2 separate regions of the Homo sapiens genome follow, and region 2 is linked to region 1. Evidence: fine-mapped expression QTL. A gene starts in region 1. The other region holds a variant in brackets. All regions are shown on one strand. Distances are between the middles of the regions. Region 1 holds the start of HAX1 (HCLS1 associated protein X-1). Region 2 holds the start of SCAMP3 (secretory carrier membrane protein 3).

Region 1 (16,754 bases):
ATAGGGCCTAGGCCAAGTAAATGACTTTGTAACTTTACTTCATCCTCTCCATTTACATAGGGTGTACACCACATAACCAATGGAAACCTCTAGAGTGGTATTTAGACTCCCAAATATTTTGTAACAGGGCCTTTGAGCCCCTATGCTCGGGCCTGCTCCCACACTGTGGAGTGTACTTTCATTTTCAATAAACCCCTTCATTCCTTCCTTGCTTTGTTTGTGCATTTAGTCCAATTCTTCTTTCAAGACGCCAAGAACCTGGACACTCTCCACCATTAACAGTTTCACCTATAAGCTTTGTATTTCCAATCCATCTGAACTGGCATGCATGTAATTTTCTTTTCTTCCAGTTTTTCCAAAATCATCTCTTAAAACAATCCATCCAGGCTGGGCATGGTGGCTCACGCCTGTAATCCCAGCACTTTGGGAGGCCAAGATGGGTGGATCACAAGGGAAGGAGTTTGAGACCAGCCTGGCCAACACGGTGAAACTTCATCTCTACTGAAAATACAAAATATATATATATATATATTAGCCGGGCATGGTGGCGCACACCTGCAATCCCAGCTTCTCAAGAGGCTGAGGCAGGAGAATTGCTTGAATTCGGGAGGCAGAGGTTGCAGTGAGCCAAGATTGCACCACTGCACTCCGGCCTGGGCGACAGAGCAAGATTCTGTCTCGAAAAGAAAAAAAACAATCCATTCTTCCTCCACTGGTCTGTTGTATCAACCCTGTCAAATGTCAAGACTGCTATAAATGTATTTTCTTTACATTAACTCACTTTTTTTGCATTACATTTATAAATTTAAATTTTTAATTTATTGCTAATATATGGATTTTTTTTTTTTTGAGATGGAGTCTCGCTCTCTCACCCAGGCTGTAGTACAATGGCACAATCTCTGCTCACTGCAACCTCCGCCTCCCGGGTTCAACAGTTCCCCAGCCTCAGCCTCCCAAGTAGCTGGGACTACAGGCTTGCGCCACTGTGCCTGGCTAATTTTTTGTATTTTTAGTAGAGACAGGGTTTCGCCATGTTGGCCAAGCTGGTCTCAAACTCCTAACCTCAGGTGATCCACCTGCCTTGGCCTCCCAAAGTGCTGGGATTACAGGTGTAAGCCACTGTGCCCGGCTACATGGATATATCAAGAGTGAAATAATTAAACATTTTTCTTTTCTGTTTTTTTATTTCTTTCTTTTTTTCTTTTTTTTTGGAGGGGGGGATAGGATCTTGCTCTGTCATCCAGGCTGCAGTACAGTGGTCTAGTAATAGCTCACTGCAGCCTCAGTCTCCTGGGATCAAGTGATCCTCTTGCTTCAGCCTCCCCAGTAGCTGGAACTACAGGCATATGCCACCACGCCCAGCTAATATTTTTTGTTTAGACAGGGCTCTAAAAGGGCTGGGATTATAATCATGAGCCACTGTACCAGGACAAAGTCAAATAATTCTACAACACATGAAAAATAGCAGCTTCCTGACTTCAGTGTCAATATGGTCCATCCTTTTCCAATCCCCAGAGGCAACTATTACCAACTTTTTTTTTTTTTTTTTGAGACAGAGTCTCCTTCGGTGGCCTGGGCTGAAGTGCAGTGGTGTGATCTCGGCTCACTGCAACCTCCATTTCCTGGGTTCAATTGATTCTCGTGCCTCAGCCTCCTGAATAACTGGGACTCCAGGTGTGCACCACCACACCCAGCTAATTTTTGTATTTTTAGTAGAGATGGGGTTTCTTCATGTTGGCCAGACTGGTCTTGAACTCCTGGCCTCAGGTGATCCATCTGCCTTGGCCTCCCAAAGTGCTGGGATTACAGGCGTGAGCCACCAGCCCTGGCCAACCATTACCAACTTTTAAAATATTTTCTTTAATATTTACCATTATATACCTAAATATGCTTACAGTGATACTTACTTTTTGTTTTAGAAACTAACTATTGGCCGGGCGCAGTGGCTCACGCCTGTAATCCCAGCACTTTGGGAGGCCGAGGCGGGCGGATCACGAGGTCAGGAGATCGAGACCATCCTGGCTAACATGGTGAAACCCTGTCTCTACTAAAAATACAAAAAATTAGCCAGGCGTGGTGGCGGGTGCCTGTAGTCCCAGCTACCCGGGAGGCTGAGGCAGGAGAATGGCATGAACCTGGGAGGCAGAGCTTGCAGTGAGCCAAGATTGTGCCACTGCACTCCAGCCTGGGGGACAGAGCATGAGACTGCATCTCAAAAAAAAAAAGAAAAAAAGAAACTAATTATTGTGTTTACAGTATGGAAGATAAGGATTTAGTTACATATTGCACTGCCCACAACAAATATATGCATTGGTTCCTCCATCTTCCCAATGTAGACAAGTACTTTTTATTTTTATTTTATTTATTTATTTATTTATTTATTTATTTATTTATTTTTATTTTTATTTTTTTTTTGAGACGGAGTCTCGCTCTGTCACCCAGGCTGGAGTGCAGTGTTGCAATCTCGGCTCACTGCAACCTCCGACTCCCGGGTTCAAGTGATTCTCCTGCCTCAACCTCCCGAGTAGCTGGGATTACAGGCACGTGCCACCACGCCTGGCTAATTTTTGTATTTTTTTGTAGAGATGGGGTTTCACCTTGTTGGCCAGGCTGGTTTCAAACTCCTGACCTCAGGTGATCCTCCTGCCTTGGCCTCCCAAAGTGTTGGAATTACAGGCATGAGCCACTGTGCCCAGCCAACTACATTGTTATTAACTGTAGTCACCATGATGTACAATAGATCTCTTGAACTTATTCCTCCTGTCCAACTGAAATTTGGTATCCATTGACCAATGTCTCCCCAGCATTCACCACCCCCTAGTCTCTGGTAGCCACCATTCTACTCTCTACCTGCATGAGGTTTTTTTAAGATTCCATATATAAGTGGGATCATGTGGTATTTGTCTTTCTGTGCCTGGCTTACTTCACTTAACATAATGTGCTCTAGGTTCATCGATGTTGTAAATGACAGGATCTCATTCTTTGTTTTCTATTTTTTCTGTAAAGAATGTCTTTATTTTAGAGATGACGTCTCGCTATGTTGCCCAGGCTGACCTTGAACTCCCTGGCTCAAGCAATCTTCCTGCCTCAGCCTCCTGAGTAGCTGAGACAACATGAGCATGCTACCGAGCCAGGCTTCATTCCTTTGTAAGGCTGAATAGTACTGCATTGTGTATATATGCCACATTTTCTTTATCCATTAACCCACTGCAGGAGACTTGGGTTGATTCCTACTCTCAGCTATTGTGAACAGTACTGCAGTGAACATGGCAGTGCAGGTATCTCTTCAACATACTGATTTCAGTTGCCTTGAATATATACCTAGTAGCTGGATTGCTGGATCTCCATTGTCTTATACTTTGTGTTGCTGATAAAGTTTGAGAATATTATGATTCTTGATCCTTTAGGTTATTTTGTTATCCACTGACACAGCCCTCAGGAGATCCTGAGAACATGTGCCCCATTTTTCTTTCTCTCTCCCTCTAGAATCTTTTAAACTCTGTTGTCTCCAGTGTTCTAAAATTTCATATGGCATGCCTTAGAGTGGGTTTATTTTCACCCTTGGTGTCTGGCATGTGGCAAGTCCTTTCAGGTTAGAAAGTAATATCCTTCAGGCCGGGCACAGTGGCTCTTTCCTGTAATTCCAGCACTTTGAGAGGTCGAGGTGGGAGGATAACTTCAGCCCAGGAGTTGGAGACCAGCCAGGGCAACATGGCAAGACCACCGTCTCTACCAAAAACAAAACAAAACAAAACAAAACAAAAAACAAAAAACAAAAATTAGTCGGGTGTGGTGGTGCACACCTATAGTCCCAGCCACTCAGGCTGAGGCAGGAGGATTGCTTGAGCCCAGGAATTCGAGGCTGCAATGAGCTATGATTGTGCCACTGCACTCCAATCTGGGTGACAGAGTGAGATTCTGTCTCAAAAAAAATTAAGTAATATTCTTCAATTCTGGAATATTTTCATGACTTATTTCATTGATAATTTATGCCGTTCTAGTTTTATGTTTTTCTTTCTTTTCTTTTCTTTTTTCTTTTTTTTTTTTTTTGAGATGGAGTCTCACTCTCTCTCCCAGGCTGGAGTGCAGTGGCGTGATCTCGGTTCACTGCAAACTCCACCTCCTGGGTTCACGCCATTCTCCTGCTTCAGCCTCCCAAGTAGCTGGGACTACAGGCACTCGCCCCCACGCCCAGCTAATTTTTTGTATATTTAGTAGAGATGGGGTTTCGCCGTGTTATACAGGATGGTCTCGATCTCCTGATCTCATGATCCGCCCGCCGCGGCCTCCCAAAGTGCTGGGATTATAGGCGTGAGTCACTGCGTCCAGCCTTTTTTCTCTTATTTTTTGATCAGTTATTTTGTTTACTTTGTGGAGAGTTCAACTTTGGAGAGTTGAACTCTATCACATTTGTGGGTTTTATTTCTGTTTTTAGAGACAGAGTCTCACTCTGTCACCCAGGCTGGAGTGCAGTGGCACAATCATAGCTCATTGCAGTTTTGAACTCCTGGACTCAAGCGATCCTCCTACCTCAGCCTTCCCAGTAGCAGGGACTACAGTGTGCACCACCCTGCCTGGCTAATCTTTAATTTTTTGTAGAGACGGGTCTCACTATGTTGCCCAGACTGTCTCCAACTCCTGGGCTAAAGCCATTCTCTCCCTTCAGCCTTCCAAACTGTTGGGATTACAGGCATGAGCCACTGCACCCGGCCAAGTACATACATCTTTATAGTGCTTAGAAATATGAATCAATAGGCTAGGTGCAGTGGCTCATGCCTGTAATCCCAGCACTTTGGGAGGCCAAGGTGGGTGGATTACTTGAGGTCAGGAGTTCAAGACCAGCCTGGCCAACATGGTGAAAGCCTGTCTCCATTAAAAACTCAGAAATGTAGGCTGGGCGCAGTAGCACATGCCTGTTATTCCAACATTTTGGGAGGCCGAGGCGGGCATCTGAGGTCAGGAATTCAAGAGCCTGGCCAACATGGTGAAACCCCGTCTCTACTAAAAATACAAAAATTAGCCAGGCGTGGTGGTATGCACCTGTAATCCCAGCTACTTGAGAAGCTGAGGCAGGAGAATGACTTGAACTCGGGAGGCGAAGGTTGCAGTGAGCCAAGATCGTGCCATTACACTCCAGCTTGGGCAACAGAGTGAGACTGTCTCAAAAAAAAAAAAAAACAAATTGCCGGGTGTGGTGGCTTGAGCCTGTAGTCCCAGCTACTCGGGAGGCTCAGGCAGGAGAATCGCCTGAGCCTCCACTTACAGGTGGAGGTTGCAGTGAGATGAGATTGTACCACTGCCCTCCAGCCTGGGAAACAGAGCAAGACTCCATCTAAAAAAAAAATTGTGTACATTTAAAGTTTTTAATCTCTCTGCATAGTCTCTGTTTCTTTCAAGTTGTTTCGTTTGTCTCTACCACTCATGTTAAATGCTTTCTTCACATATCTGGTGATTTTTAGCTCCATTTATATTTGTGATGGTACTCTAAAAAGCTGATTAGAAAAAACAATTGTATTTTTATACAATAGAAGGGTTAAAAAATAATAAAAAGGTAGGAAGACTGGTTTTACTAAATAAAACTATAGTATTTTAAGGTATGATATGGGCACAAATATAGACAAATAGACTAATAGAATAGAAAGACCCAGCACAGTTGTGTGTGTGCATGTGTGTGTGTTGTTGTTGCTATTGTTTTGGGGCTGTTTTAGTTATTTATTTATTTTTACCTGGGATTACAGGTGCCCACCACCATGCCCGGCTAATTTTGTATTTTTAGTAGAGATGGGGTTTCACTGTGCTAGCCAGGCTGGTTTTGAACTCCTGACCTCAGGTAATCCACCTGCCTCAGCCTCCCAAAGTGCTGAGATTACAGGCGTGACCCACCGTACCCGGCCTATTTATTTATTTACTTATTTATTTATTTATTTATTTTTGAGGCAGAGTCTCACCTCTCGCCCAGGCTGGAGTGCAGTGGCATGATCTCTGCTTACTGCAACCTCTGCCTCCTGGGTTCAAGCGATTCTCCTGCCTCAGCCTCCTGAGTAGCTGGGATTACAGGTATGCGCCACCACACCTGGCTAATTTTTGTATTTTTAGTAGAGACGAGGTTTCGCCATGTTGGTCAGGCTGGTCTTGAACTCCTGACCTCGTGATCCCCCCGCCTTGGCCTCCGAAAGTGCTGGGATTACAGGCATGAGCCACCGCACCCAGCCTATTTATTTTTTGAGATAGGGTCTTGCTCTGACACCCTGGAGTGCAGTGGCGTGATCATGGCTCACTGCAGCCTCAAACTCCTGGGCTCAAGTGATTCTCCTGCCCTAGCCTCCCCAGTGGCTGGGATTACAGGCACATGCCACCATGCCCCACTAATTTTTTAATTTTTATTTTGTACAGATGGTGGGGGGGTCTCACTTTGTTGCCCAGGCTGGTCTTAAACTCCTGTGCTCAAGCAGTCCTCCCACCTATCCCTCCCAAAGTGCTGGAATTACCAGCGGGAGACACAGTGCCCAACCTTGTTTTTTAAAAAGAAATATTTATATATTTGTGCATATTTTTTCCAAATTGGACCCAAATTAATACCATATACAAACAAAAATTCCAGGTAGGTCTAAAAACCTAAACGTAAAACACAAACTTATAAAGATAAATTAGGCTACAATAAATCAACTTCTGTTCACCAAAAGATACAATAGAGAATTAAAAGACAGAGCTTCATTACTATCATCTCCTGTCCTTTGTTCTTGTGATATACCTCTTTAGAGAAATCCCTTTGTCATAATTTAGTGGGATTTCCAGAGGAAACAGAAGTAAATAAATATGTCAGATTTACCACTCTCTTTTTTTTTTTTTGAGATGGAATTTCACTTTTGTCGCCCAGGCTGAAGTGCAGTGGCACAATCTCTGCTCACTGCAACCTCCACCTCCTGGGTTCAAGAGGGTCTCCTGCCTTAGCCTCCCTAGTAGCTGGGATTACAGGCGCCCACCCCCACACCCAGCTAATTTTTTGTATTTTTAGTAGAGACGGGATTTCACTATATTGGCCAGGCTGGCCTCGAACTCCTCACCTCAGGCTATCCACCCGCCTCAGCCTCCCAAAGTGCTGGGATTACAGGCGTGAGCCACCATGCCCGGCCACCACTCTTTTTTTTTTTAAATATTTATTTTTTATTTTATATTTTGAGACGGAGTCTTGCTCTGTTACCCAGGCTGGAGTGTATGGTGCAATCTCGGCTCACTGCAACCTCTGCCTCCCGGGTTCAAGTGATTCTCATGCCTCAGCCTTCCGAGTAGCTGAGATTACAGGCCCGTACTACCTTGCCTGGCTAATTTTTGTATTTTTAGCAGAGACAGCAAGTTATCCGCCCATCTTGGCCTCCCAAAGTACTGGGATTACAGGCGCGAGCCACCACTCTCGGCCTTTTTTTTTGAGACAGTCTCACTTTGTTGCCCAGGCTGGAGTGCAGCAGCATGGTCATGGCTCACTGCATCCTTGACCTCATGGGCTCGACAACGTCCCACCTCAGACCCCTGAGTAGCTGGGACTACAGGCATGCACCACCATGCCCAGCTAATTTTTAAATTTTTTTGTAGAGACAGGGTTTCCCTATGTTGCCCAGGCTGGTCTCAATTGATCCTCTCCGCTCAGCTTCCCAAAGTGCTGAGATTACAGGTGTGAGCCACTGTGACTGGCCCCAGATTTGCCCCTCTTAACCACAGTACTAAAAGCTTTTGTTGTTGTGATTGGGTCTCACTCTGTCGCCCAGGCTGGAATGCAGTGGTGTGATCATAGATCACCGCAGCCTCGAACTCCAGCCTCCAGGGATCCTCCTGTTTTAGCCTCCTGAATAGCTGAGACTACAGATGTGGGCCACCATGCTCAGCTAATTTATTTATTTATGTTTTTTGAGATGGAGTCTCGCTCTGTCAACCAGGCTGGAGTGCAGCAGCACAATCTCAGCTCACTGCAACTTCCACCCCCTGGGTTCAAATGATCCTCCCGCCTCAGCCTCCTAAGTAGCTGGGATTACAAGTGTGCACTACCACACCCAGCTGATTTTTGTATTTTTAGTAGAGTTGGGGTTTCACCATGTTGGCCAGGCTGGTCTCGAACTCCTGACGTCAAGTGATCTGCCCACCTTGGCCTCCCAAAGTGTTGGGATTACAAGTGTGAACCACAGTGCCCAGCCTGCTTGAACTCCTGACCTCAAGTGATCCACCCGCCTCAGCCTCCCAAAGTGCTGGGATTATAGGTGTGAGCAACGATGCCCAGCCTGCTCAGCCAATTTTTAAAAAATATTTTGCGGGGCGTGGTGGCTTACGCCTGTAATCCCAGCACTTTGGGAGGCTGAGGCAGGCGGATCACAAGGTCAAGAGATCGAGACCAGCTTGGCCAACATGGTGAAACCCTGTCTCTACTAAAAATACAAAAATTAGCTGGGCGTGGTAGCACGTGCCTGTAGTCCCAGCTACTCGGGAGGCTGAGGCAGGAGAATCACTTGAACGCGGGAGGCAGAGGTTGCAGTGAGCCGAGATTGCGCCACTGCACTCCAGCCTGGGTGACAAAGCGAGAGTCCATCTCAAAAAAAAAAAAAAAAAAAAAAATATATATATATATATATATATATTTTAGAAATAGGATCTTGCTATGTTGCCTCCGCCTCCTGGGCTCAAGTAATCCTCCTATCTCAGCCTCCCAAGTAGCTAGGATGATAGGTACAGTCTAACACACCTGGTTAAAAACTTTTATAATGAGAAAAGGAAGCCTGGGCAACATGGCAAAACTCCGTCTCTACAAAAAATACAAAATAATAATAATAATAAAAGGAAAAAAAACGAGAAAAAAAATTAGCTAGGCATGGTGGTGTACGCCTGTAGTCCCAGCTACTCAGGAGGCTGAGGTGGGAGGACTGAGCCCAGGTCGAGGCTACAGTGGGCCAACATCGCCCCCTACACTCCAGCCTGTGTGACAGAATGAGACCCTGCCTCAAAAAGAAAAAAGGACCTAGTAACGTTTGTGCCAGGTGTATTTTCTCTAACATACATAACAATTTTTTGAGATGGAATTTCGTTCTTGTTGCTCAAGCTGGAGTGCAATGGCATGATCATGGCTCACTGCAACCTCCACCTCCTGAGTTCCAGCAATTCTCCTACCTCAGCCTCCCAAGTAGCTGGGATTACAAACATGTGCCACCACATCTGGCTAATTTTTGTATTTTTAGTAGAGACAGGGTTTCACCGTATTGGTCAGGCTAATCTCGAACTCCTGACTTCATGTGATCCATCTGCCTCGGCCTCCCAAAGTGCTGGGATTACAGGCGTGAGCCACCACACCCAGCCACATAACAACTTTTTAAGGCCAGTAAAGTAAGGGAAATTTACCCATGTGCTTCCCCAGTTACTTCATGAACTCTCCAGTCAGTGATCCCACACTCAGGGAAGCAGTTAACCCCTACTTCCACACCCACACCCTTTTTTTGGGAATCTGATGTATCCCTCTCTAGAAATTTTCCTGAAATTATTTCTAGTCATCTCCTCAGTAAGAAAAATCATTTTTCTTTTTCTTTTCTTTTCTTTTTTTTTTTTTTTTTTTTTTTTGAGATGGAGTTTCACTCTTGTCGCCCACGCTGGAGTGCAATGGCGTGATCTCGGCTCATTGCAACCTCCTCCTACCAGGTTCAAGCGATTCTCCTGCCCTAGCCTGGGATTACAGGCACCCGCCACCATGCCCAGCTAATTTTTGTATTTTTAGTAGAGACAGAGTTTCACCACATTGGCCAGGCTGGTCTTGAACTCCTGACCTCAGGTTATCTGCCTGTCTCAGCCTCCCAAAGTGCTGGGATTACAGGCATGAGCCAACGAGCCCGGCCTCTTTTTTTTTTTTTCTTGCTTGAGAAAGAAAAATCATTTTCTACTTGTGCCTGACCCTTACTTATGAAATCAGGTTTTAGATGCAGAATAAAAAATTAAGGAATAAGGAGAAGGCAGAGGACCAAGATAATTTCGGAAGTGTTGGATGGTTCTAGAAACTGAAATAGCCTTGACAAAACCAAGACAAAAAATTAGCATAAATAAAGGTTTTATTGGTCAGTTTGGGTGAGTGACAAACTGACATGGCCCCAGTTCACTATTCCACATATCCAAGCCCCTGAGGTGGCAAGAGAAGCTAAGCTTATTAATGGTGGGCAATGGGTGAGAGGTGGAAAGGACTTGAAGGCCTCTGAGGGTTAACAAGGCTACCGGGACCGGAACCAACGTCCCAGGAATAAGTCCAGGATGGAAAAGGCATCATCCAGGGCTGGAGGTCTTGGTGATTCTGGATCTAAGGAAGAAAGTCATACACGTAAATAGGCTAAATGAAAGAGACTAGGCAGAAGCAAAGGACAAGGGTAGAAGAGTAAGATTTCCCTTCCCCAAGGAATCTTGAGATGAACCCCTTTGTCTTTTAACTTACCACCCCTAGGACTGCTATCTGCTTCGTGTCGGGTTACTGTAGTCTCTGTCCGGCCCTCACTGTCCACCACAGTCCGGCGCTCCTCCACTATCTACAAAGAGAAGTCCCCACCATATTCCGAATGTTACTAAAGGTTATGCTCAGCAGTTTCTTTACACAGATCCCTGTTTCAGGGCATTCGTTCCCTGGCCATACTTTCCTTTACCTCTTTCTTTCAACTCACCCCATCTGGTTTAGTGATCTTGGTCACAGAGATGCTCTTGAAATAGGATTTGGGCTGGGGCTGTAGAACCGGGCCAAGACCCTCCTGGGAAACCTGGGAATCAAGATCTGGAAGAGCAGAGAGATGAAGAAGCAGGAGAGAAAGAGTCCAAAGGAAAAAAGGAGACAAGTGTACAGGAAGAAACTTCAGGGAGGGAGAACACACAGAACTTCAGAAGAATAACAAAAGGCTGGTAAACTTCCCCTTCCTCCAGACTTACCATTGTCCTCTCTGGTTCTAGGATGGGGGTCCATAGGCCATACATCATCAAACTGCAGAAGAAACCATAGTAAGTGAAAAGACTCCTTCCAATCTGAAATTTGAAAGGTCATAGACCTCAAACTACTCCCGAGCTCCAAAACCCCCTTCCACAGAAGAGATAATTCCATTCAGAATAGCCTTATTTACACACTCCTTCCTGGCTGTTTTATGTATCCTTCTACCAGAAAGACTTCCTGAACTGATATATTCCTATCCTCTGTGCACAATCCTGCCTTATCCAAGAATTATCTAGACCAGTGGTGTTTTTTTGTTTTTGTTTTTTAAAAGAAACAGAACACCCATCTCCCCCCAAAGAAAATCCCACAAGCTTAATATAGAAAACAGAAAACACTAAATGGAGGGCTTAGGATTCCAACCCAAGGCTATCAGATTCAAACAAGAATTGCAATCTTTGGCCAGGCATGATGGCTCACACTTGTAATTCCAGCACTTTGGGAGGCCGAGGTGGGTGGATCACCTGAGGTCAGGAGCTCAAAAGCAGCCTGGCCAACACGGTGAAACGCCATCTCTACTAAAAACACAAAAATTAGCTGGGCGTTTGGCAGGCGACTGTAATCCCAGCTACTCAGGAGGCTGAGGCAGGAGAATCACTTGAACCTGGGAATTGGAGGTTGCAGTGAGCTGAGATTGTGCCACGGCACTACAGCCTGGGCAACAGAGCAAGGCTGGGTCTCAAACAATTTTTGAGATGGAGTCTCCACCTCCTGGGTTCAACCAATTCTCCTGCCTCAGCCTCCTGAGTAGCTGGCATTACAGGCACCTGCCACCATGCCCGGCTAATTTTTTGTATTTTTAGTAGACACGGGGTTTCACCATGTTGACCAGGCTGGTCTCCAACTCCTGACCTCTGGTGATCTGCCCACCTCGGCCTCCCAAAGTGCTGGGATTACAGGCGTGAGCCACCGCACCTAGCCAGTCTTTGCACTTTATTAGTGGTCTCTCACAAGCTCTCACTTCAGGACCAGATGGGATACTCACCCTATGAAATGGCCTCTGGGAGCCCCAGTCTGGTGCTGGTTGGGGGGATTCACTTCTTGCATCACTCTCCAAGACCCCCCCAAAGATCCTGGGCTGGTGACTATCTGGATACTTAAGCATTGAGTCCCGAAGTGTCTGTCCCTCCCGTAGTCTCTCACCAGGTGTCTCTGACTCAGGACCTGGAAGTTCTGCAGAAAGGTGGCAGGTGTTTGCTGGGATGGGAAAGGACTTGGGCTCTATTAATCTCTCTGAAATCATCAGTCTTCTCACACTTCCCATCCCCCAGCTACTCCCTGCAGGCTCTTTATTTCACCCACCAACCCACCAGAAACCACAGGTTGCCCCTTAGGGAAAGCCACACACCAGGAGGATGGGAAGGCAAGGTCCAGGCCCCCATATCGCTGAAGATGCTATTGAAATCTCGTACTAGGTCATCAAAGCCGAAGTTATCGTGGAAACGTATCCCTCCTCCTGGGCTGAAGCTGAAGCCGAAGCCAAATTCCTCAGGGGGGTGCTGAGGACTATGGAACCTTGGGTTCCCACGGCCCCATGAGCCCCCTTCTTCTTCTTCTTCCTCATCATCATCTTCATCTCGAGTCATCCCTCCAAAAAAGGGATCTCTGTGGCTGAGAGTGGAGGCAGATTGGCCACCAATATTTCAGCACTATTTAAGCCATTAAATCAACTCATGGGTGGCAAAGTGGGACAAGAGCAAGGGGTCTGGGAAGCTAGGGAGAGGGTCGGAGGACTGGCTGCCACATCAAAACATTAATACAATGGCTGACAGTTCTTTTTTTTTTTTTTTTTTTTTAATCAAAGTCAGACCTCAGCTCGCAGCTCCCTTCATACACCTTCCCCCAGTTTTTCTTCAGTGTGCCCCAGTCCCTCCTCTCTCTCCCAAGGTCCTGCTCACTTGCTCACTGTCTTATTCCCCAGACCCTCACGGTCTTCCCCGCCCGGGTCCCTGTTGCATCACCCCAGGTTGGAGAAAGGCTTAGTTTGCTGTTTCTCCTCTTAATGACCGCCTTGGTTACTGTGGCGGGGTGAGTGTTCAATGTTGCGACTTCTGTCCTCTCTGCAGGAGTTGAAGGAGTGGGACAGAGGATGTTTTTCCAAAAATAAGACGTAGGGGTCAAGCTCCCCTCAGACGACCCCCACCCTTGTCCGAGCCGGACCTACTCTCACCTCCGAGGTCCAGGAAAGCCGAAAAAGCCCCGGAAGAGATCAAAGAGGCTCATTCCCGTACTGGGACGCGAACCTTTGAACCCCTCCAGTGGTCCATTCGCAGACGGGGGAAACCTGCGCAGCCCTGTGAGAAATTGAGCGAGGCGTCAGCCCACGCTACCGGAAAGCAAGCCCGCGATCCTGACACTGTCGTAAACGACGGTAAGCCGGACGTGAAATGGAGGCGGGACCGAAGGTCTTCCTCAAATTTGAAAGGCTTTATCTTTACCCCACCTTTCAGAGACCAGTTTCCGTGACGGGAGTGGGCGTGACGCACTTTCAGTTTCCTATGACCGCCTTCCTCCTAAATCTGTTCTTCTTTCTGCAGACCAACTCAGTACGAAAAGCGATTTCGAGGGTTTGACTCTGGATGGCACCCGGATAAAGCCGCCAGAGGGCAGCCCAGCCGCACAAATGGACCGGCTTGAGGGCGTCCCTCAACCACCCCACCCGCGGGGCTGGCCAGCCTCACAGCAGAAGCCACCTCGCTCCTTACTCGGGCGTTCTTTTTGACTGACCTGGGCGATGTCTGCTGTTAGAGGGATGAACAAAATGCTTTTCCAAGCTCCTTCTAGTATTGAATTTCCCAGAGAAGAGATCAAGACATAAGAGACGCATGGACTTAACTTCCTCCACCTCTCTAGCTACTAGGGAGTTTGTTATAACTATATAGAATTCTTTTTTCTAAGCAGGCTCTGCAACCAGCAAGACAAAGGATTTTTAAGAAAGCAAGGGAAGGGAAGCTAGTTGAGTCCTGAGAAGGAACAAATTGGGGGTTATAAAGAAATATCCCTTTGGTATCTTTTTTTTTTTTTTTTTTTTTTTTTTTTTGAGACAGAGTTTTCTCTCATGTTTCCCAGGCTGGAGTGCAGTGGCACCATGTCGGCTCACTGCAACCTTCGCCTCCCAGGTTCTCTCCTGTCTCAGCCTCCCGAGTAGCTGGGATTACAGTCATGCGCCTCCACGCCCGGCTACTTTTGTATTTTTTGTAGAAACGGGGTTTCACCATGTTGACCAGGCTGGTCTCGAACTCCTGACCTAAGGTGATCCGCCCAACCCAGCCTCCCAAAGCGCCTGTCCTCATTCCTTTTTAAAAGTGTTTTGTTCAAAACCTCTCCGAGACCTGTCTCTCCCTGTACCCCATCCCCAAGCCAGACCTTGCTCTAGATTCTTTTTCAAAGAATTGGGTATAGCTATGTCACAGAGAAGCATCCAAGAAGCCACTACTACAGTAGTCCATTCCTAGGGGGAATGGGCCCCAAGGTTTTGTTTTTTTATTTCGTTTTTGGGGTACAGGTGGTGTTTGGTTACATGGATGAGTTCTTTAGTGATTTCTGCGACTTTAGCGCACCCATCACCCGAGCAGTGTACACTGTACCCAATATGTAGTCTTTCATCCCTCACCCCACTCCAAGATTTAGTTCTGCCAGACGATACATGTTGCCTTCACTTCTTTTTAGTTTATTTGCCTGGACCCATCTAAGTCATACTTAAAACTCTATAAAGCATTTTTTTTCTTTGAAATGGTCTCAGCTCCTTCTTGATCCTCTCCATTTTCCACCCAATCTCCTCTATCCCTCTCCCTTTACTGCCTGAAATCGGCTGTAGATGTAGCAGTTTCTGGAGGAAATGAAGATTTGTGGTGGTTCTTTCCAGTCACCAGGTTGTGAAAGTCTTAGGGGTGAGGGGAAGGAAATCCCCTCAAGGACAAGATACTACTACCACATTAAGGTCAGGAGTTCTTAAAGGGCGAAGATTTCATTTTATTCCACTGCCTTCAGGGGCCTGCTAGAGGAGGCCCAGTTGGTACAGTAATACTTATTCACCAAGCTGGTCATCGACGAAATTGAGGATGTCCTAGACGGAGCAAGAATAGGCAGAGGCTGAAGGTAGAGGTTTTCTTTTTATATATACAAGACACATTAATCCATTAAATTTGAGGACACAGTACAAAAAAAAAAAAAAAACAAAAAAAAAACCACTTCAACTAATTCATCTGACAATGCTGTTCATATTCATGACGCCATTTTTTTGTTTGTTGTTGTTGTTGTTTTCCTAATAATAAAGAAGGAGACTTAGGGCTGTTGGGCTGATATATGTTTGGGGGTCCCACCTCCCCGCCTCATCCGTACACCACCAGGGTGAACAGGAGGAAGCAAAGGAAGTGCAGGGCCCATAGCAAAGTTTCATAATCTTGAATGCAAGAGGGGAGAAGGAATGGAAGGGGGAAAAAAAAGGAGAAAATACAAATCCTATAATACATACAACAGGGTGGGGATGGTATAGGAATGGGACAGACATGAAGCTGAGGCATGGGGTGGGCCGCTGGGGGTGGGGGGCAGCGGAAACCCCCCACATTCCTTTCTCTTTGATGCTGTTTCCATAGTTTCCAGGCTGAGAAGCCCTCTCAGAAGATGGGACCGGGAGAAGAGGGTCAGGGCCTCAGTTGGCCCCCCAGCTGTAGCTGTTGTAGGCAGACTTGTTGGTCTGGGGCTTCTGCGGGATGGAGCTGGTCTGGCTACGTTGCCCGCTGCCCGTCTGCAGGGGAATGGGAGGATCATGAGGAGGAAAAAGGTGTCTAGTTAGTGGTACAAATTTGTAACATCTTCAGGTGGAGATGTGCAAACTGTCTTGCTCTCCCATTCCCCTCACTACTATTAGAACCATAGAAAATTTGGTCTGCATAGCTGCTAAAGCCCCTTTCTTACAAGCAGGAAGGCATTTTTGACTTTTAAATAGGGAAAAGATGAAGAGGGCAAGATACCTTTAGAGACAAGGTAGTGAGTGAGTTCTACTCATTTTCAATTCTACATTCTCACACTACCCCCTCTCTCCCCTGCTCTTGGAGATGGGTGATCACAAGGCAATTTCATTTCCATTGATCCCCATTAATGCCTCAATTTGGAAAGCTGTCTTTGAGGAAGGAAGCCCTTATTCTAGCTCCAGCCACCTATAATGGAGCTCTCAAGAGGCCACTTGCATCGCCCCACAGATCCCCACCCCTACCACACATCACATCTGTGAGCCCATTTCAGGCAGGTATGAGAGGCAGTCTGAGGCCTCAGGCTCCAGATGCTGCCCCAAGAATCTTTTCCATTCTGGTAACCGAATGTTTTCCACAGCTGGGGAAGGGTACAAAGATAAAGAGGGTGTTGGGGAGGGGAGGAGGAGAGAGGAAGGGGAGGCCAGAGAGCTCAGCAAGGTGTTTGTGTTTGTGTATCCCGATTTGTGACCGCGCAGTCTTTTCAAGTTCCCTGAGGCTGTGAAGGTGAAATGGGGACTGAAAAGGAGTGGGTTCAAGCATATGATCATTCAATTTCATTACCTGCTCCTCCTGCTGGCGCTGGCAACAGAGAATCATCTGCAAATATGGTAGCTGAGGCAGAACCAGGATATATGGAAAATAAAGGGACAAACTTTGACAATAGAACTCCACCATTAGAAGGGAAAGCTAAAATGTCAGGGAAGAGGGAAGGCTGGGAGAGGAAAGAGGGAAGGTGTGACCCAGGTCTGATGGGATGAGGACAACTGTGGCACAGGAGGAGAAGGGCACCAAAG
Region 2 (8,000 bases), 990 kb before region 1:
ATTTCACCATGTTGGCCTCAAACTCCTGACCTCAAGTGCTCCACCTGCCTTGGCCTCCCAAAGTGCTGGGATTACAGGCGTGAGCCACTGTGCCCGGCCCAGTTTTAATATTTTAGTGGTATGTTCAGTGGAAAGAATGGGTTAAGGATGGTTTAGAGCAAGGGGGGATTTCATTCAGGAAAGCTTGAGAAAAAAATGGCTCTTTGTTTCTTTGTATCACTGCAGCGGGAAAAAGGCCCCAATAGGGAGTGGTTCTGCAGATGCCTTTTCAGAGGTTTTGGTGACATGGCAGATGTGCTTGTTACCTCACTTCTCTGGTCCCTTGGTCCTCTCAGTGACTCAACAAGTGTCTGAGAACAGTTTTCTAGCATTACTCTTTGTCCTCACTAAGGCAGGACCTTGTCACAGGGTATGGTAGGGAATGTGATCTGAACAGATACACCTCATTGGTATTTGTTATCCAACAGCAGTTATGATGATCGTTCGTCCGACCGGAGGGTGTATGACCGGCGATACTGTGGCAGCTACAGACGCAACGATTATAGCCGGGATCGGGGAGATGCCTACTATGACACAGACTATCGGCATTCCTATGAATATCAGCGGGAGAACAGCAGTTACCGCAGCCAGCGCAGCAGCCGGAGGAAGCACAGACGGCGGAGGAGGCGCAGCCGGACATTTAGCCGCTCATCTTCGGTGAGTGCCAGCCCAGGCCCTTCCTCTCCCCACTCTTCTGCAGGCCCTCTAGGACTCTGGTAAGTGAGCAGTATCCTTGTTCTCAGCTGAACATTGGGGCATGAACACTGAGGTGGGCACTGAGTTTGCCTACTTTCTTGGAAGCTCTCCGACTCTTGAAGGGCCCTGGATCTGCTTTGGAGATGGATGGGCACGGAGCATTTGTGACCCCCAGTGCTCTCCCTGGCATGTTGGGCTTATTGTGTTGGGAGCAGCTTCTCCGCCCCAGCGGCCTCCACTCTTTAATGGGGACCTTGCTTGTGAACTGCCTTTTTCCCCCAAGCCCTGGGCTCTGTAGCCCCCTTGGCAGGCGGGCTTGGGTGGGGGCAAGGGGAGATCTGTGTCTGCCCGGAAGGGCATTGTGTAGAGCATGGGGTTGTGGGTGACATTGGCAACAACACCACTTCTCTGCTCTGCCCATGCCTCTCCCTGTTCCTGTTTTGGGTTTGGGGACTTGGGATTATGCGCCGCTCTCTCTTCTCACACCGATCCACCTTACTGCATCTGACGTGTTCCCTTCCACTGTCCCCCATCATCGTCTGTCCCCCCTGGCTGGGCGCCTGTGACCGGTGACCCCTCTACCACCCACCCCGCCTCCCTCCGGCCCCCGCTCCGACACCTGGCTTGCTCCGACCCCCCCTGCCCCCCGACAGCAGCACAGCAGCCGGAGAGCCAAGAGTGTAGAGGACGACGCTGAGGGCCACCTCATCTACCACGTCGGGGACTGGCTACAAGAGCGATGTACAAGCCAAATCGTAACAATCCTATAGCCTGTAATGGTCCCATAGCCATCCTAACGTCCCAAGCCAACCTGAGTCACAGCCTCTTGCCTTTTCTCAGTGGTGTTGTTTATCTGGGTGGTTTGAGTTGCTGTTGAGAATTGACCTCTGTTGTCCACTCCCAGCTCTCACGGCCCCTGGGTTAAAGGTGGTGGGAATCACGCAGGGGTTTTCTTCCCCTGTGACCATCTGTATCTGTTCCCCTTCCTTCATCTCCACCCCAGGTTGCTGTCCCCTTTTTTCTTCCAACTCAGCTCATTCCCCACCTTCTCTCCCTCCCTCTCCCCGACCCTGCTCTCTTTCATTTCAGATGAAATCGTTAGCACCTTAGGAGAGGGGACCTTCGGCCGAGTTGTACAATGTGTTGACCATCGCAGGTAACTGTCAGTCCCTCCCTACTATGTGGGGCTAAAGAGATGGTTGGGGTTATATGGGGCTTTTTTGCTAATTAACCTGAGGTAGAATTTCTTAGTCCCCCTACAGCCCTGTTCATTTTGAGACATTCTTGAGAACCCAGCAAAAGCCTCTCCTGCCAACTTACAGGGGTGGGGCTCGAGTTGCCCTGAAGATCATTAAGAATGTGGAGAAGTACAAGGAAGCAGCTCGACTTGAGATCAACGTGCTAGAGAAAATCAATGAGAAAGACCCTGACAACAAGAAGTAAGCAAGCAAGGAAGTATGTAGGGAGGCTGAGAGCCCCAACCCCTACACGGGAGAGACTTCTAGACCTGGTTTAGGCAGACAGGGGAGTCCTAGACCTTCTCATCCATTCATCTTTTGTTCATCATCTTAGAGTAGTAGAACATCAGGGTAGGAAAGGGGGGGGGCCCATGACATTCCTTAATCCACTCCCCTTGTTTTCAGGGAAGTTAGATTGCTCTGTCGTTTGACCCCAGCCTAGAATGGCTTCTGTAGAGATATACCCTGGACATAGCCCTAGGACTGAGCATCAACCTCATCGAACAATGAATTAAGCTTTTATAAGTAGAACTATGCTGATAAGGCCACAGACATTTATGCAGTAATATTTTGTTCACATACATTCACAGTCCAAAAATAGAATAAGGACTTTAAGCCAAGATATGAGGCCAGTAGGTATAAATAGGAGCCCAGTGGTAGCTAGTGGTGAATGAATATCAGGAGTTGGGCTGGGGTTGGGATTTAGGATGGACAGTTTGATGATTCAGGATCTATACTGTTTGGAGCTTGGCACTCCACAGCTCTTCAGCAAATAGTTTTTGAACTATTTAAAATGACGCAGGAAGATATTTTGAAACTTGGGCTGGGCATGGTGGCTCACGCCTGTAATCCCAGCACTTTGGAGGCCGAGGCGGGTGGATCACAATGTCAGGAGTTCGAGACCAGCCTGGCCAATATGGTGAAACCCCGTCTGTACTAAAAATAAAAAAATTAGCCGGGCATGGTGGTGGACAACTGTAGTCCCAGCTACTTGGAAGGCTGAGGCAGGAGAATCGCTTGAACAGGAGGCAGAGGTTGCAGTGAGCCAAGATCGCGCCACTGCACTCCAGCCTGGGTGACAGAGTGAGACGCCATCTCAAAAACAAAAAAGAAAAAAACCTGGCAGATAGTACCATTCTTCTTGGGTCTGGTAGAGGCTACTCCTTAG[C/T]TGAACTGAATTTTGGTGTTAGTACTAGCTGGCATGGTTTTACACAAGTATGTGGAATCAACAGCTATGAAGTACCTCCTTGTTGGATGGCTGATGGGCAGATGGGAGCTCATCAGACAACCCCCCTTCCCCCATCTCTCTTCTCAGCCTCTGTGTCCAGATGTTTGACTGGTTTGACTACCATGGCCACATGTGTATCTCCTTTGAGCTTCTGGGCCTTAGCACCTTCGATTTCCTCAAAGACAACAACTACCTGCCCTACCCCATCCACCAAGTGCGCCACATGGCCTTCCAGCTGTGCCAGGCTGTCAAGTGTGAGTGGGGTGGGCCGAAGTGGACTCTGGGGCAGTCCCTCCCTTCATTGGATCTCTCTGTCGGTTGTGCACTGGTGAAGCCCCTAAACAGTCAGCTGTCTGTTATCTGCAGTTCTTTGATTTACTGTCATCTTGAAACGTCTTCTGACTTAACTCCTTGACTGATGTCTTTATCGTCACTGATTGCTCTTACTCTACACCTAGCCTAGCAGCAGCTAGAAGAGAAAGCCTTTGGAATCAAAGCACTTAATTACCCTCCCCTTTTCCTTTCTCCCTTTCTTGGGAAAGCATCAGTCAGACAGCAAACATAAAGAGACAAAAATACACTCCTTAGGGTAAAGGCTTACATTTGTCTGGGATGAGATGTTCATTCACAGCAAAGGAGATGGGAACACAGAGTATGTAGTTCAGCTAAGGGGCAAGGTGGGGAATTCAAAGAAATATATCATTCCTCTGGAGTCATCAAAATAATACAGTTTCACAGAATTGAGTTAACATAATGCCAGCTAGACACATGTCAAAGTGTGTACACACTACAACTCAAAGCAAACTTTTTTTTTTTTACATCAGTTGAGCTACATATGTATCTTACATTAGAAAGAGCAGAGCTTCTTAGACCAGGCATTCCATTTAGACGTAGAGCAGAAAGCAGCCCTAGTGATTCTGGACCTGTCTCCTCACTGGCTTTGCCCTAGGTAACCAGGCCTGGGGTCAGCTGATACCAGTTAGCTCTGGCCACCTGCACCAAGCCTGACCTGGCCTTCTCCCCTACAGTCCTCCATGATAACAAGCTGACACATACAGACCTCAAGCCTGAAAATATTCTGTTTGTGAATTCAGACTATGAGCTCACCTACAACCTAGAGAAGGTAAGATGGATAGGGTCTGCCCTTGGTTACTGGGGGCAGGCAGCTGCACCACTTTGCCTTCTGCCGAGCCCTTTGTTTTCTCCCTTTTATTTCGTCCTCCCACATTTTCTCCCTGTCTGGCTCCAACTGGGTAAAACTAAATAGGTTGAAAGGGAGAAATCTCTTAAGAAGACTTAAATTGGGAGATAACTTGTACAGGGGACTTCAGATAACTTTCCAGTAGAGTGAAAGTTTTTAAGGTTCTTGGTTTGGACTTTATTTATTTATTTATTTATTTATTTATTTATTTATTTGAGACAGAGTCTCACTCTGTTGCCCAGACTGATGTGCAGTGGCATAATCTCGGCTCACTGCAACCTCTACCTCCCAGGTTTAAGTGATTCTCCTGCCTCAGCCTCTGGAGTAGCTGGGATTACAGGCACCCGCCACCACGCCTGGCTAGTTTTTGTGTTTTTAGTAGAGATGGGGTTTTGCCATGTTGGCCAGGCTGGTCTCGAACCCCTAACCTCAGGTGATCTGCCTGTCTCGGGCTCCCAGAATGCTGGGATTACGGGTGTGAGCCACAGTGCCTGGCCCGGACTTCTTTTTTGAGATGTGTATTTCTGTGAGGTAGGAAAGCTCGGCTCCTTTGACTAACTGGAGATAATGGAGATCTCAGACCTAAAGAAGCTCTCCCTCCTTTGACCCCTTTGCTACATGTTACATATTTTTAGAGAAACTCCTTTGCTACATGTTACATTTTTTCAGAAAAACCCATTTGCTACATGTTACATTTTTTCAGAAAAACCCATTTGCTACATGTTACATGTTTTCAGAATAACTATATATCTGGCACTTGAGTGTAGTCTTCAGATGCTTACAGATGTGCACGCTGTTCTATAATCATTTCTTAATCCTTTTGCTCCCCTACTTCTAAAAGTATTATGCTGGATGTGGTGGAAGCTGTAAAACAGGAATTTCCCAGGGCTTGTAAGGCCAGGCAGGAGATCACAGTACCTTTTTTAAGGCTCAGAAGCAATGTAGAGAATACTGGTGGAATCTCAGTCTGGGTGCAGAGGTTCATCCTCTTTCTCCTCTGCTCCTAGAAGCGAGATGAGCGCAGTGTGAAGAGCACAGCTGTGCGGGTGGTAGACTTTGGCAGTGCCACCTTTGACCATGAGCACCATAGCACCATTGTCTCCACTCGCCATTACCGAGCACCAGAAGTCATCCTTGGTAAGGGAGGGCAAGGCTGTCCAAGTGTGTGAGATGATGTGAGGGTGGGGCCACCTAAGCCTCATAACACCTTTTCCCTCCCATTCTCACCCAGAGTTGGGCTGGTCACAGCCTTGTGATGTGTGGAGTATAGGCTGCATCATCTTTGAATACTATGTGGGATTCACCCTCTTCCAGGTAAGTGATGGGATGTCTTACTTGACTGCCTGGCATTCTTCTACCTGGTTCCTTTGTTTTCTGCTGAGGACCTGCCTACTCAGTTCTCCACATTGCCTGCCTTCCTGGCAGCTGATCCTTAGCATGCCCTTTTCAGTCCCATGCTCAGTTCTGTTTTTGTTTCCCAGACCCATGACAACAGAGAGCATCTAGCCATGATGGAAAGGATCTTGGGTCCTATCCCTTCCCGGATGATCCGAAAGACAAGGTGAACCTTGAGGGGGCACTAGTTAACTCTTTTCCTTTTCTCTCCACAGAATTGGTCTATTTCACATCATTTTCTTTTTTCTTTGATACCTCCTCTCCCCCCAGTTACTTTCAGATGGGGAAATAAGGGAATTGTAACAAGGGTGACCTTCTGATTCCTCAACCTCCCCTTCCCCTCTAGAAAGCAGAAATATTTTTACCGGGGTCGCCTGGATTGGGATGAGAACACATCAGCTGGGCGCTATGTTCGTGAGAACTGCAAACCGCTGCGGGTGAGCTGGGCTCGGGATAAATAGTGCCCACCGTCCAGAAGTCACTTCCTTCTTAGGGTGGTTTGCCCCCTGGAATGCTCTTCACAAGCAGAGGGTTAGGAAAGGAGGGGAGGAAAGCTGAAAGAAGACATCTTTGGTCAACAGAGGAAACATAAGAGGGAGTGGTTTTGTGGAGGGAAGGAGGTTAGACAGCCTAACCTTGAGACAACCAGAGATCAAAGCAATGTCCTGGATTCTTTAGGTCAGACAGAAAAGAATAAACTACCTTTGAAGAGCTTACATTTTAATGAGGAACTAAAGAAGATTCATGAAGTTGACAAGGATATACAAGTAGAAAGAACTTTCAAAGATTATGGAGTAATTGTGCTAGTGGGAAGGTAGGTTGAGCTATAATATCAGAAACGTTGGTCCTGGTGTGGTCGTGGTTAGGTAGCCTTCAAATTGGTTGCAAGCAGAGCCTTGGTTCTCCAAGAATGAAAGGTAGGGTCTTGAAGAAGGCAGGGTTTGTAAGGCATCCTGCCTCACCTTTTTCCTGCCCTCCTCCACCAGCGGTATCTGACCTCAGAGGCAGAGGAACACCACCAGCTCTTCGATCTGATTGAAAGCATGCTAGAGTATGAACCAGCTAAGCGGCTGACCTTGGGTGAAGCCCTTCAGCATCCTTTCTTCGCCCGCCTTCGGGCTGAGCCGCCCAACAAGTTGTGGGACTCCAGTCGGGATATCAGTCGGTGACGATCAGGCCCTGGGCCCCCCTGCATCTTTTATAGCAGTGGGTGTCCAGTCCAGGACACTGGTGCTTTTTTATACAAGAGAACGAGCCAGAGTTCACTCCTTCCTCCTGGCTCTCTATATACCTGTGAATATGTGAAATAGTGTAAATATGAAAGAACTTGTACCTATCACTTCAACCCCTGCCTTGTACATAATACTATTCCATCCACACAGTTTCCACCCTCACCTGCCCCCTCATACGGAGTTGGATGGGGGCCGAGTGAGGTAACCAGGTGGCATCTACCCCATGTTTTATAAGGAATTTTGTACAGTCTTTGTGAAATAAAATAACGTGCTTCATTTGACCCCCATCCCTGGAGTTGGAGGTTTGGGAATGCTGGGGTGGAGGGATGAAACTATTGGCAAACTTTCTGAGTTTGGGTATGAAGGGAGTCCTCCTTACCCTCCAAAATGAAGCACAGCCAGGCTACCAGTTTATTTCCCCTGTCCACCTTATCATATGGGAGGGTAGTGATGGGTGGGGCAGCATTTCTTTCAGATTAAAACAGAGAAGTGTTATGAGGTGGCACTTCTCGGATGTGGAATTATGAGAGTTGGGAAAGATCTGACTCCTAGAGTCATTAGGCCGCGGCCCAGTATAGAGCCAGAAACTCAGGTTGAAAACGTGCTCAACCTGGCTCCTAGGGGGGATTGCCACGACCGGTCAGAAGGCTCCCGTCGTCCATCTCGGGAGACTAGGAAGGCCGGATTCCTACGCGAGGCCTGCTGGGAAGTGTAGTTCGTTAGTGGAAGGAAGTCACATGGAAGAGGGGCGGTAGTTGGTTGTGGGCACTGGGTTAGAGGTATCACGTGGGGGCACTTTCGTCTTAGCTTTTGGACAAGACGCAGGCGCAACCCACGGCTGCTGCGGGGATCCTTGTGGCCCTTCCGGTCGGTGGAACCAATCCGTGCACAGAGAAGCGGGGCGAACTGAGGCGAGTGAAGTGGACTCTGAGGGCTACCGCTACCGCCACTGCTGCGGCAGGGGCGTGGAG

The links. PIP is the estimated chance that this variant, and not a neighbour inherited with it, causes the effect.
Region 2: its variant is fine-mapped to the expression of HAX1 in sigmoid colon (GTEx, PIP 0.98).

What each region holds. Positions count from the first base shown.
Region 1 is chr1:154,269,180-154,285,933 of GRCh38, reverse strand. It overlaps HAX1 (HCLS1 associated protein X-1), which reads right to left and starts at 13,305. Exons shown (of 7, transcript NM_006118.4): 1 at 13,158-13,305; 2 at 12,336-12,598; 3 at 11,973-12,160; 4 at 10,933-10,984; 5 at 10,674-10,780; 6 at 10,451-10,541; 7 at 10,059-10,318. The coding sequence starts at 13,210. The coding sequence ends at 10,233. UBAP2L (ubiquitin associated protein 2 like) reads right to left here. Exons shown (of 27, transcript NM_014847.4): 27 at 15,087-15,734. The coding sequence ends at 15,639. RefSeq lists an enhancer at 13,242-13,411 and a silencer at 13,549-13,689.
Region 2 is chr1:155,262,184-155,270,183 of GRCh38, reverse strand. It overlaps SCAMP3 (secretory carrier membrane protein 3), which reads left to right and starts at 7,824. Exons shown (of 9, transcript NM_005698.4): 1 at 7,824-8,000. It overlaps CLK2 (CDC like kinase 2), which reads left to right. Exons shown (of 13, transcript NM_001294338.2): 3 at 468-696; 4 at 1,389-1,476; 5 at 1,825-1,891; 6 at 2,058-2,174; 7 at 3,289-3,455; 8 at 4,230-4,324; 9 at 5,410-5,539; 10 at 5,634-5,716; 11 at 5,884-5,963; 12 at 6,144-6,234; 13 at 6,784-7,316. The coding sequence ends at 6,966. The variant C/T (reference allele first, on the strand shown) is at 3,142.